Homo sapiens: one gene and its partners. The protein of the gene in region 3 purifies or fractionates together with the protein of the main gene of each other region. This does not show direct contact. Each region holds a gene or a part of one and is shown on either strand. Other genes may lie near its edges. The genes, in order: CLTCL1, MTCL2 and ZNF169.

What was found.
Region 1: the proteins of ZNF169 (region 3) and CLTCL1 purify together in Homo sapiens (affinity purification with mass spectrometry; 2 studies listed by BioGRID and IntAct, with this or other methods). This does not show direct contact.
Region 2: the proteins of ZNF169 (region 3) and MTCL2 purify together in Homo sapiens (affinity purification with mass spectrometry; 2 studies listed by BioGRID and IntAct, with this or other methods). This does not show direct contact.

The regions. Positions count from the first base shown.
Region 1 is NC_000022.11:19,221,982-19,225,727, reverse strand, and holds part of CLTCL1 (clathrin heavy chain 2), read left to right. Parts: intron 1-94; coding exon 95-275; intron 276-1,673; coding exon 1,674-1,837; intron 1,838-2,918; coding exon 2,919-3,044; intron 3,045-3,634; coding exon 3,635-3,746. UniProt on the Homo sapiens protein: Clathrin is the major protein of the polyhedral coat of coated pits and vesicles. Two different adapter protein complexes link the clathrin lattice either to the plasma membrane or to the trans-Golgi network.
Region 2 is NC_000020.11:36,814,895-36,818,640, reverse strand, and holds part of MTCL2 (microtubule cross-linking factor 2), read left to right. Parts: intron 1-1,171; coding exon 1,172-1,234; intron 1,235-2,333; coding exon 2,334-3,515; intron 3,516-3,746. UniProt on the Homo sapiens protein: Microtubule-associated factor that enables integration of the centrosomal and Golgi-associated microtubules on the Golgi membrane, supporting directional migration. Preferentially acts on the perinuclear microtubules accumulated around the Golgi.
Region 3 is NC_000009.12:94,257,632-94,261,377, reverse strand, and holds the start of ZNF169 (zinc finger protein 169), read right to left. Parts: upstream 2,081-3,746; 5' UTR 2,033-2,080; intron 1-2,032. UniProt on the Homo sapiens protein: May be involved in transcriptional regulation.

The DNA of each region.
Region 1 (3,746 bases), on a different chromosome or scaffold from region 3:
CTCAGGGGAACAGGAGAATGACCTAGTTATTTTCCAAGTGTTAGCAATCTTTAGAGTGGTGCATCGTTGTGGACAGACTCTTCCTTGTTCCCAGTGGCTTGTCAATTTCTTTGGCTCCTTATCGGTGGAGGATTCTGTGGAGTGTCTGCATGCCATGCTGTCTGCTAACATCAGACAGAACCTTCAGCTGTGTGTGCAGGTGGCCTCTAAGTACCACGAGCAGCTGGGCACGCAGGCCCTGGTGGAGCTCTTTGAATCCTTCAAGAGTTACAAAGGTAAACCATGCAGCCTCTCGCCGACCCCACCATGTGACTACACCTCCTTTCTCAGGTGTTGCTGCCTACCTGCCCGCCTTAAGACGGCCTTCCTGCAAAGCCAGGCAGGATGCAGCACTGGCTGCCTTGGGTGCTCAGTCGGTGGCAGAATGCTACTGCCATCTCATGTGCACCCTCAGCTTCAGTAACCTTTTTGGTATTTCCAAAGGAAGAAATCAGGTTGGTTGGTGATGGGATGGAGAAACTTATGGAGCCCGGTGTGTCTACGCAGCACAGTCTGGCAAGAATTCATCTAAAAGCCTGTGTCGTGGGTACAGTGAAAGGGCCTGATGTCTGGTCTTTACAGCCCCAGGAGGGAGGCTCTTTGGGCCTCTCCTAAATGAGAGCCCACGATAGAGGGTGCATTGCTTTGTGGTGTCTGCTACCCAGTTGATTGTGGGGGGCTGACAAGGTAACCTGGTTGTCTTCCTTTCCCCTTCTTGGACATCACACCAAAAAAGTGTTCTAGGGCAGTTGGGATGGGAGTGGCTTTGTTAGGGACAGATGGGGGCTGTCTGGCCCACCCAGGATAGAGACTAAGCATTTGTCTAGGCATCAAGCCACTGCCATGTGTCCAGTGAGGTTGGGGCATCGGTGGAGGGTGGGACATGACCCTGTCCTCAGGGAACTGGCCTTCTCTTTAGAAGACACCCCTGTAGGAAAGACCATGGCAGACGATTGAGTGGAGCTGGGCTGGGAGAGGGCAGTAGAGTAGGTTGGTGGAGAACCGTCAGCCCAGGGGCTGCCCATTCCCTTCCTAGCATCAGGGTCTCACAGTTACAGTGAAAGACCTCGACAGGGAGGGGCCTTCTCAGATGTGTCGTACCCTGTTGTTACTGGTGCCTCCTGGCTGGCCTCTGTAATGATGAGGAACATCATTAGCCTCTGTGAATGCTGTCCTCTGGGGCTCACCCTGGGGCTCAGCATGTGGTGCCCATGTCACTGTCAGCTCTGTGTTGAGTTGCAGGCCTCCTCCTGGAGGCCATGGCTTATTTCTCTGTCCCTTGATGTGTCTTTTTAGAGAAGCAGTCCCACCACCATTTCAGATTACCTCAGTGGGAATTACTCTTGATGACGACTATCTAGGTATACCTGGGCCCACAAAAGGAATTTCACTTGTACCAAATATCTAGTATTTTACATCAAAACATGCCAGGTATACCTGCCAAATATAATGGAAATCCGACTAGCTATTTTTGGGAGCTGCCAAAACAGACAAATGGCATATTGATTATGAGTTCTGAGTGTGCTGTGGGTCCCTGGAGAGTGGAGCAGGGTCATCGAGGGAAGGTGGGCAGCAGCTACGGAGGAGACAGGCAGGTGTTACAAGGACAAAAATGGAATGGTCTCTCTTCATAGGCCTCTTCTACTTCCTGGGCTCAATCGTGAACTTCAGCCAAGACCCAGATGTGCATCTGAAATACATTCAGGCTGCCTGTAAGACAGGGCAGATCAAGGAGGTGGAGAGGATATGCCGAGAGAGCAGCTGCTACAACCCAGAGCGTGTGAAGAACTTCCTGAAGGTGTGTTCCAGTGCTGCCTCCTTCCATGAGCTGCCCTTGCTGATGGCAGGTGGGGCAGACCATCCGCAGGACGTCCCAGGGGCAGGAAGCTGGATCTGTCTCGCCAGGGACCCCTTAGTCCCAGGGACAGAGCTCCACTTTATGGCTTAAAGTTCTAAAGTAACCCTTCTATCGTTTTAAGAGTGTGGAAAGCAGCTTGAGGCTGTGCTCTAAGTATCTGGCACTTATTGCTGCATTGTAATTCATCAACATCCCATTAGTGCCATTGTCAATTAGGCAGGCAAAGCTGCAGAAACAAGTAGACCACTCAGCACTAGTGTCATAAAGAACAGGAAGCCTACTTCCTTATGTGGCAGTCCAGGGTAGGCTGGAGGTCAGTGGGGTGACTTTCCTTCCCACTGTACTTCAAGGACCAGCTTCATGGCTGCTTTGCCGTGTTCAGCACCTCACCTGGATGTCGTCTTCCCAGTCAGCTAGAGGAAGGGAAGAGCACAGAGGAACCAGCATAGGTGGTTTTTATGGGCGAGGCCTGCAAGTGGCAGATGACACTTGGATTCACGTTCCATTGGAGGAAATGAGGTCATGTGGCCACACTTAAAACTTCAAAATGTGATCTAGGCACGGGACCACATGAGGGGAGGCATGATTGTGGTGGCCTGTGGCTGTCCTACCCAAGTGCCATCATCATCTGGGAATGGTGGCCGGGTGTGTTTCCATGGCCTGCGGCTGCGTGTCTGAAAAGGCAGCCCTTACCGCAGGTGTGCTGTTCTTGAGAATGGCCTGGTTTCTGTTGGGTTTGCACATAATGAGCTGCTTGTCTTAAAAGATATTTTTGTCCAGATTTGGAATGTTAATGCCAAATGTAGCAGTCTTTAACCAAATACTAATATCTTTCTCTCACTTATTTCCCAAAGCAAATGCCATACCACAAAACGACAGCCTATTTAGAGCAGTCTCATTCTGAGTCTCCTGTGTGTCACTCTGCTGCAGAGACAGAGCCGTCCCATGTGTGCAATGAGTCCGAGGTCTGGCTGTCTGGTTTCTCCACTCCCTGACTTGTTCTGTGCATTCTAATCCTCAGGAGGCCAAGCTCACAGACCAGCTTCCCCTCATCATCGTGTGTGATCGTTTTGGCTTTGTCCATGACCTTGTCCTATATTTATACCGCAACAACCTGCAGAGGTACATTGAGATCTACGTGCAGAAGGTACTGCTGGCTCCCTGGAGTGACACCCGGCTGCCTCTGGGCCCCAGTCAGTGGCAGTCTTCCCCTCAGAGGCTGCCTGTAACACCTGACATTTCAGAGACTATCATTTTGAAGGGTGGTGGGTTCGTGTGCTCAGACTGCCAGAGTAGAAGACCACAGTCCAGGCAGCTGAAACAACACACATTTATTTCTCACAGTTTTGGAAGCTGGAAGTCCATGATCAGGGTGTCGGCAGGGCTGGTTTCTGGTGAAGGCTGTCTCCCACGCTTGCAGACAGCCTCCTGGCTGTGCCCTCACAGGGCCTTTCCTCTGTGCATGTGCACTCCTGGTGTCTCTTCCTCTTCTTAGAAGGACACTAGTCCCATTACATTAGGGCCCCACCCTTGACATTGATTACCTTCTTAAACACCCTCTTTCCAAGTAGAATCCCACTAGGGGTTAGGACATCAGCAGGTGAATTTTGGTGGGACACAGCGCAGTGCTAAACAGGAGCCCTTTCAGGGTTTTGCCCAAACTGTCCACGTCGTAGGAGGCTTCTAACAATAACTTGTGTTTGCAACACTGAAGTTACTTGACCTTGACTACCCTAGGTCAACCCTAGCCGGACCCCAGCTGTGATTGGAGGGCTGCTTGATGTGGATTGTTCTGAGGAAGTGATTAAACACTTAATCATGGCAGTGAGAGGACAGTTCTCTACTGATG
Region 2 (3,746 bases), on a different chromosome or scaffold from region 3:
TTTTTTTGAGGTGGAGTCTTGCTATGTTGCCTAGGCTAGTCTCAAACTCCTCAATGCAAGCAATCCTCTCACCTCAGCCTCCCAAAGTACTGGGATTACAGGCATGAGCCACTATGCCAGACCAGCTTCTGGATTTTTGAATCACTGTTTGCCATCAGTCTCTTATGACCATTTCTAAGCCTCATGTGTAATTACGATTTGTTATATTCATTTTATTGTTGTTGTTTGTTCTTTGAGACAGGGTCTTGCTATGTTGGCCAGGCTGGTCTCAAACTCTTGGCCTCAGGCAATCCTCCTGTCTTGGCCTCCCAAAGTGTTGGGATTACAGGCATGAACTACCACATCCAGCCTCCATATTCATTTTATCCATTAGTATTCATTCTGAATTACAGTTCCCACTAGATGTCAGTTTCATGAAGACAGGATTTTCTCTGAGATGGAGATTTGCATGCAGAGGTTTATGGAAGAGTCTCCTTGGGAACAACACCACAGGGAGTGAGGCAGAGCTGGAAGCTGAATTACACCAGTGATCTCAGGCGATCCCATGGGGAGCTCTGGAGCTAGGATGGCCCTCCCTGTAGAGCTGAGGCAAGGGGTCATGGACCCATCCCTGGATGTGGGCTCCATCCACGGATAGCACCTGCCCTTGGACAAGGTGGTTCTCCTCAACCAATGGCTGTCGCTGGGAGAGGTACTCAGCTTTGAGGTCTCAGCTCTGGGAATGAGTGTCTCAGTTCCGAAGGGGAATCTGGGCAAAGCACCACAACATCCTCCCTGGTTCACTGCTGTGTTCTCTACACCTACCTACCTGGCGCTTGATAGGTGCTCAGGAAATCCTTTGATGAAAGACAAATGAGAACAGAAACACAGCTTTCCAAGTCTTCGCCGAGGCCAACTGGGTCACACATGGGAGCAGGCTGGAGGGGAGGAGCCCTGAGCAGGTGTTTTTAGAATCATCTTCTCCAATGCTTCTGGCCTATCTCCCATTGCTGCTCACTGGGTGATCTGGAGGGCTCCTCTTACTCAACAGTCAGTGCCATCAGGGTGGGGTGGCCTGGGGACTGGGGCCCTCCCTGGACCCTGGGCACTGTGACAGCTCTCTGCATGTGCATCATTCTGTGAGCTTTCAGTCCTGACTTTTTTTTTTTTTTTTAATTAAATCTCACTTCAGCATTCCTTGAAGAAAAGAGGAACCCGCTCCCTGGGGAAGGCCGATAAGAAGACTTTGGTGCAGGTAATTCCCAGCAGCCCCCGTAGGAAGGTTTTATTCTGAAGACCTGAGCCTGACTCTAAGTGGCCTGGGGATCCCAGATTCTGCCCTGTCCTCCCCTTGCTCATTTTCCTTTTTTTCTTTTCTTTTTTTTTTTTTTTTTTGAGACGGAGTCACACTCTCTTGCCCAGGCTGCAGTGCAGTGGCACAATCTCAGCTCACTGCAACCTCTACCTCCCAGGTTCAAGCAATTTTCATGCCTCAGCCTCCCGAGTAGCTGGGACTACAGGCGTGCACCACCACACCTGGCTAATTTTTGTATTTTTAGTAGAGACAGGGTTTCACCGTGTTGACCAGGCTGGTCTTGAACTCCTGGCCTCAAGCAATCCACCTGCCTCGGCCTCCCAAAGTTCTGGGATTACAGGTGTGAGCCACTGCGCCCGGCCCCCTTGCTCATTTTCTTAGTTTCACTGCCCACTTTATTTCCCAAAACCACATCCTGAGCCCATGGTTCTTAGATGCTTAGATGCTCGCTCCCCACCCCAGCCAGGAACTTAGCAAGCAGCACTACAGTCAAATCCAAAGGTCTAGAGTTGGAGACCCAGGCTTGAATCTTGGCTCTGCCACTTGACTGCCATGTGATTGGAGCGAGTCATTTTGAGTTTCTGGGCTCCATTTCCTATCTATCCCTGTCTTGGGGGTTCATTGGAAGAATTGGATGAAGTACTATATGCAGCAAAGGCCACATACCGTTAGCTCCTAGTGGTATGGGATTGTCAGAGTGCCAGGCCCTTTTCATCCTTAGCTCATTTAATCCCGTCTGTGGCTCTGGGAGGGAGGTAATGTTACCGCCCCATTTTACTGATGAAACTGTAGTGGCAGCAGTTGCTCATCAGTATGTCACCTGTTCCTGTACTCCCAGGCTATGTGTGGCGCCCCATCCTTGCTGTCATTTCAACATCTACCCCTCTGCGTCTCCCCCGGACCCTTAGCTCCTTGAGGGTCTGGCTGTGTCTGATTCATCCCTGTGTTCCCAGCACATAGTGCTCCCCAAAATGCCATGGCTGGTACTGAGACTCCCAGCACTAACCTTCCTGGGTTGTGTCTGTCTCTGTGGTCCCAGGAGGACAGTGCAGACCTGAAGTGCCAGTTGCACTTTGCAAAGGAGGAGTCAGCCCTCATGTGCAAGAAGCTCACTAAGCTTGCCAAGGAGAATGACAGCATGAAGGAGGAGCTGCTGAAGTACCGCTCGCTCTATGGGGACCTGGACAGCGCGCTGTCAGCCGAGGAGCTGGCCGATGCCCCCCACTCGCGGGAGACCGAGCTGAAGGTGCACCTGAAGCTGGTGGAGGAGGAAGCCAACCTGCTGAGCCGCCGCATCGTGGAGCTGGAGGTGGAGAACCGAGGCCTGCGGGCTGAGATGGACGACATGAAGGATCATGGAGGTGGCTGTGGGGGTCCTGAGGCACGCCTGGCCTTCTCCGCGCTGGGTGGCGGAGAGTGCGGGGAGAGCTTGGCAGAGCTGCGGCGACACCTGCAGTTTGTCGAAGAGGAGGCCGAGCTGCTGCGGCGCTCCTCTGCCGAGCTCGAGGACCAGAACAAGCTGCTGCTGAACGAGCTGGCCAAGTTCCGCTCGGAGCACGAGCTGGACGTGGCGCTGTCGGAGGACAGTTGTTCTGTGCTCAGCGAACCTTCACAGGAGGAGCTGGCGGCCGCCAAGCTGCAGATCGGCGAGCTCAGCGGCAAGGTCAAGAAGCTGCAGTACGAGAACCGCGTGCTCCTCTCCAACCTCCAGCGCTGTGACCTCGCCTCCTGCCAGAGTACGCGGCCCATGCTGGAGACGGACGCCGAGGCCGGGGACTCTGCCCAGTGTGTGCCTGCTCCCCTGGGCGAGACACACGAGTCCCATGCGGTCCGACTCTGCAGAGCCAGGGAGGCCGAGGTGCTGCCTGGGCTGAGAGAGCAGGCCGCCCTGGTCAGTAAGGCCATCGATGTCCTGGTGGCTGATGCCAATGGCTTCACGGCTGGCCTCCGGCTGTGTCTGGACAACGAGTGTGCTGACTTCCGGCTGCATGAGGCCCCCGACAACAGCGAGGGCCCCAGGGACACCAAGCTCATCCATGCCATCCTGGTGCGCCTGAGCGTGCTGCAGCAGGAGCTGAATGCCTTCACGCGGAAGGCAGATGCAGTCCTCGGGTGCTCTGTCAAGGAACAGCAGGAGTCCTTCTCATCACTGCCCCCCTTGGGCTCCCAGGGGCTCTCTAAGGAGATTCTTCTGGCAAAAGACCTTGGCTCAGACTTTCAGGTAAGGTGCCTCATGCACAGATCCTATTATTTATTTTTTTCCTTTGTTTTGTTTTGTTTTTCTTGAGATAGGGTCTCTCCCCGCTGGCCAGGCTGAAGTGCAGTGGTGCAATCTCAGTTCACTGCAGCCTCGATATCCTGGGCTCTAGCCATTCTCCCCCCCTCACTCTCCTGAGTACCTGGGACTACAAGTGAGCACCACCACACCCAGCTAATTTTTATTTATTTTTTA
Region 3 (3,746 bases):
TCAGGAGGTCAGGAGTTCAAGACCAGCCTGACCAACATGGTGAAACCCCGTCTCGAGCGGGGTGCGGTGGCTCACGCCTGAAATCCCAGCACTTTGGGAGGCCGAGGCGGGCGGATCACGAGGTCGGGAGATCGAGACCATCCTAGCCAACATGGTAAAAACACAAAAATTAGCCAGGTGTGGTAGCGCGTGCCTGTAGTCCCAGCTACTCGGGAGGCTGAGGCAGGAGAATACCTTGAACCCGGGAGGCGGAGTTTGCAGTGAGCCGAGATCGCGCCGCGCCACCCCACTGCACTCCAGCCTGGCGACAGAGCAAGACTCCCTCTCAAAACAAACAAACAAACAAACAAACAAAAAACAAACCCCGTCTCTACTAAAAATACAAAAAAAATTAGCCGGGCGTGGTGGCGGGCGCCTGTGGTACCAGCTACTCAGGAGCCTGAGGCAGAGAATTGCTTGAACCCGGGAGGCCGTGGTTGCAGTGAGCTGAGATCACTCCACTGCACTCCAGCCTGGGCGACAGAGTGAGACTTCATCTCAAAAAAAAAAAAAAAAAAAAAAAAAATGTAGGTTTGGATGCCTTCCACCCAACTTCTTCCCCCACCTCCAGGAATTCAAGGAGTCACTCAACAGCCCCCTGAGGCTTGAGAAAAATGTTCCTTGGCCCTATGGGCACCATTCTGCTTGTTGCAACCCATGCTCCCGGAAGGGTCCCCAAGTCCGAGGGAGCCACACAGCTGCAGAAGCCGACAATCTGGATACAAGCACGCCCCCATGCAACCCACAACCCAGGGATGTCTAACTCCAGGCAAGCCCTTCTCAACTCACCAACTTGGGTCCCCAGGCCCCAAGGCTACTGACCCGAGTCGCACGGCCCTAGCCGTCCCCCCCCCCACTATCAAGACCAAGTCTGGATGTCTACCCACAAACAATCCTCCCCCACAAACCCGGGTCCTAGTGGCCAAGCTGCACCATCACCACCACAGTGCACCAGCCATCCACAAGAGCCCTAATAACTGGACTGAGGTTGGGCACGGTGGCTCACGCCTGTAATCCCAGTACTTTGGGAGGCCGAGGCGGGGGGATTACTTGAGGTCAGGAGTTCGAGACCAGCCTTGCCAACATGGTGAAACCCCGTCTCTACTAAAACACAAAATATTAGCCGGGCGTGGTGGCGTGCGCCTGTAGTCCCAGCTACTCGGGAGCCTGAGGCAGGGGAATCACGCCACTGCACTCCAGCCTGGGCGACAAGAGCGAAACTCTGTCTCAAAAAAACAAAACAAAACAAAAACCAAAAAATTAGCCGGGCGTGGTGGCGGGTGCCTGTAATCCCAGCTGCTCGGGAGGCTGACGCGGGAGCATGGCTTGAACCCGGCGGCTGGGGTGGGGCGCGGAGATTGCAGTGAACCGAGATTGCGCCACTGCACTCCAGCCTGGGCGACAGAGAGAGACTCTGTTTCAAAAATAAATAAATAAATAAATAAAATTTAATAAATAAACAAATAAACAACCCGACTGATGCCCAAGCCGCGTGCCTCCCACTAATGGGGAAGTTTGCTCCAACCGAGGATATCATGTCCTCCAAAGGCACATTTGCTGGCCCAGAGACCTCCGAGGCGCGATGGTGGGGAGGGGATGGCGGGATACTAGTGGCAGGATGCTGTCTGGGTACCCCAGGCAGAGCCCACTCAGCGGCCCCCGAAGTACCGGGGACGCACCTGCGAAGTAGCTCGGGAAGTCGGTCCCAGGCCTGCACTGGCCCCTCCAGGTCAACATACTGGGCCCAAAGTCCCGCCAGAAGCACGCGACAACGCCAACGCCCCCTCCCCACCAGAGGACCTCCGCCAAGACCTCTCTCCGGGGTGGACCACGCACGCCCAGACCCCACAGCCGAAACTCAAAACACCAAGGAACATGTGGCCACGACATGGACTGCCCATGCCAGCTTTCCCGACCTTCCTTCCAGTGGAAGGCCCGCGAAAGCGGGGACCACCTCCGGGCTAGCTCACCAGAACTGTGAAAGGACACTCACCACGCACCAGGCGACGATGCCGGAACGCGGAAGTACGCGAGCCGGACTGCCCCTGGGCACGGAACTACACTACCCAGACTGCCACGGGGCGCGCAACTACCCTACCGTGGATGCCCTGGAGCGAGGGACTACAACATCCAGAATGCTGCGAGGGGCGGGACCGCAGCATCCAGGAGAAATTGTGAAAAATCAGAAAGTAAAATCTAACTTTCGGGTCTATGAGAAGGGTGGTCAGGTGAGCAGTAAGTCTTCTTTAACTTTTTATACGGTCCTTCTAATTTTTTTTTTTTTTAAAAAGATGTTACATGTCCTCCATCCTGCAAATTCACACCTGTGATTGTACACCCCTGAACTTTATCTACTTACTTATTTTTTGAGAAGGGGTCTTGCTCTGTCGGCCAGGCTGCAGTACAATGGTGTGATCATAGCTCACTGCAGCCTCAAACCCCTGGCCAAGCAATCCTCTCACCTCAACTTTCTGAGTAGCTGGGAATACAGGTGCATAGCACCACACCGGGCTAATTTTTTGTTTTGTTTTTTAGAATCTGGGTCTCGCGGCCGGGCGCGGTGGCTCACGCCTGTAATCCCAGCACTTTGGGAGGCTGAGGCGGGCGGATCAGAGGTCAGGAGTTCGAGAGCAGCCTGGCCAATGTGGTAAAATCCCGTCTCTACTAAAAATACAAAAATTACCTGGGCGTCGTGATGGGCGCCTGTAGTCCCGGCTACTCAGGAGGGTGAGGCAGGAGAATCACTTTGAACTCGGGAGGTGGAGGTTGCAGTGAGCCAAGATCGCACCACTGTACTCCAGCCTGGACAACAGAGTGAGATTCCTTCTCAAGGGGGAAAAAAAAAAAAAAGAATCTGGGTCTCGCTATGTTGACCAGGCTGGTCTGGAACTCCTGGCCTCAAGCAATTTTCCCACTTCAGGCTCCCAAAGTGCTGGGATTACAGGCGTGAGCCGTCCTTGTGGCCCAGGCTGCCTTTCGAGTTTATTTAGGGCCCTCTAGCCAGAGGTGGTGAGATTGGCAGTAACTCAAATTCCAACTGCTGGGATAGGTGATTCTCCTCGGGCTAAGGCTGGTGTAAATACTCCCTCCATGCGTGAGAATCAGCTGTGTTTGATCCAGTTTTGCTTTCTGGTATAACAGGGCAGCACTGAGTTCAATGCAATGTCTCATCATTGCTGTGCTTGCCGTCTCCCAAGAACATAGATTCTCTCTCCGCACCACAGAGCCACTGCTGGGGGATGGGTCAGGGGCATTGGTGATTCAAGACTGTCTTTCCTACCTTTTCAGTGCCTCTTTCAGTCATATGAAGTAAAAACCAGGTACTGCGAGTGCTTACCTGATTTTTGGTTCTTGTGAAGGTGCTTTTGTGTGTAAATAGTTGTTAACTTGTTTTTCTTACAAGGGGGAATGATCAGTGGAGCCTTCCATTCCACCATCTTGCTCCACCTCCCACCCCCATGTTTTAAATGACAGTGTGTATGAATGTACTTCTAAAAATGCCAAAAATACTGGGGTTTTTTTTCCTGTTATAAAGAAGAAGATTCTGAAGTTTTTTTTTTAATTCCAATTGATTACAAGAAGATAAGGAAAAACTAAACTTGAGGACATTTAACACTATAGCAATTAAAGTTATCTTACTAATGCAAAGATTGTTTATTAGATGTAACAGAATAATACGCTCAAAAACATACCAAAGTCTTTGCAAA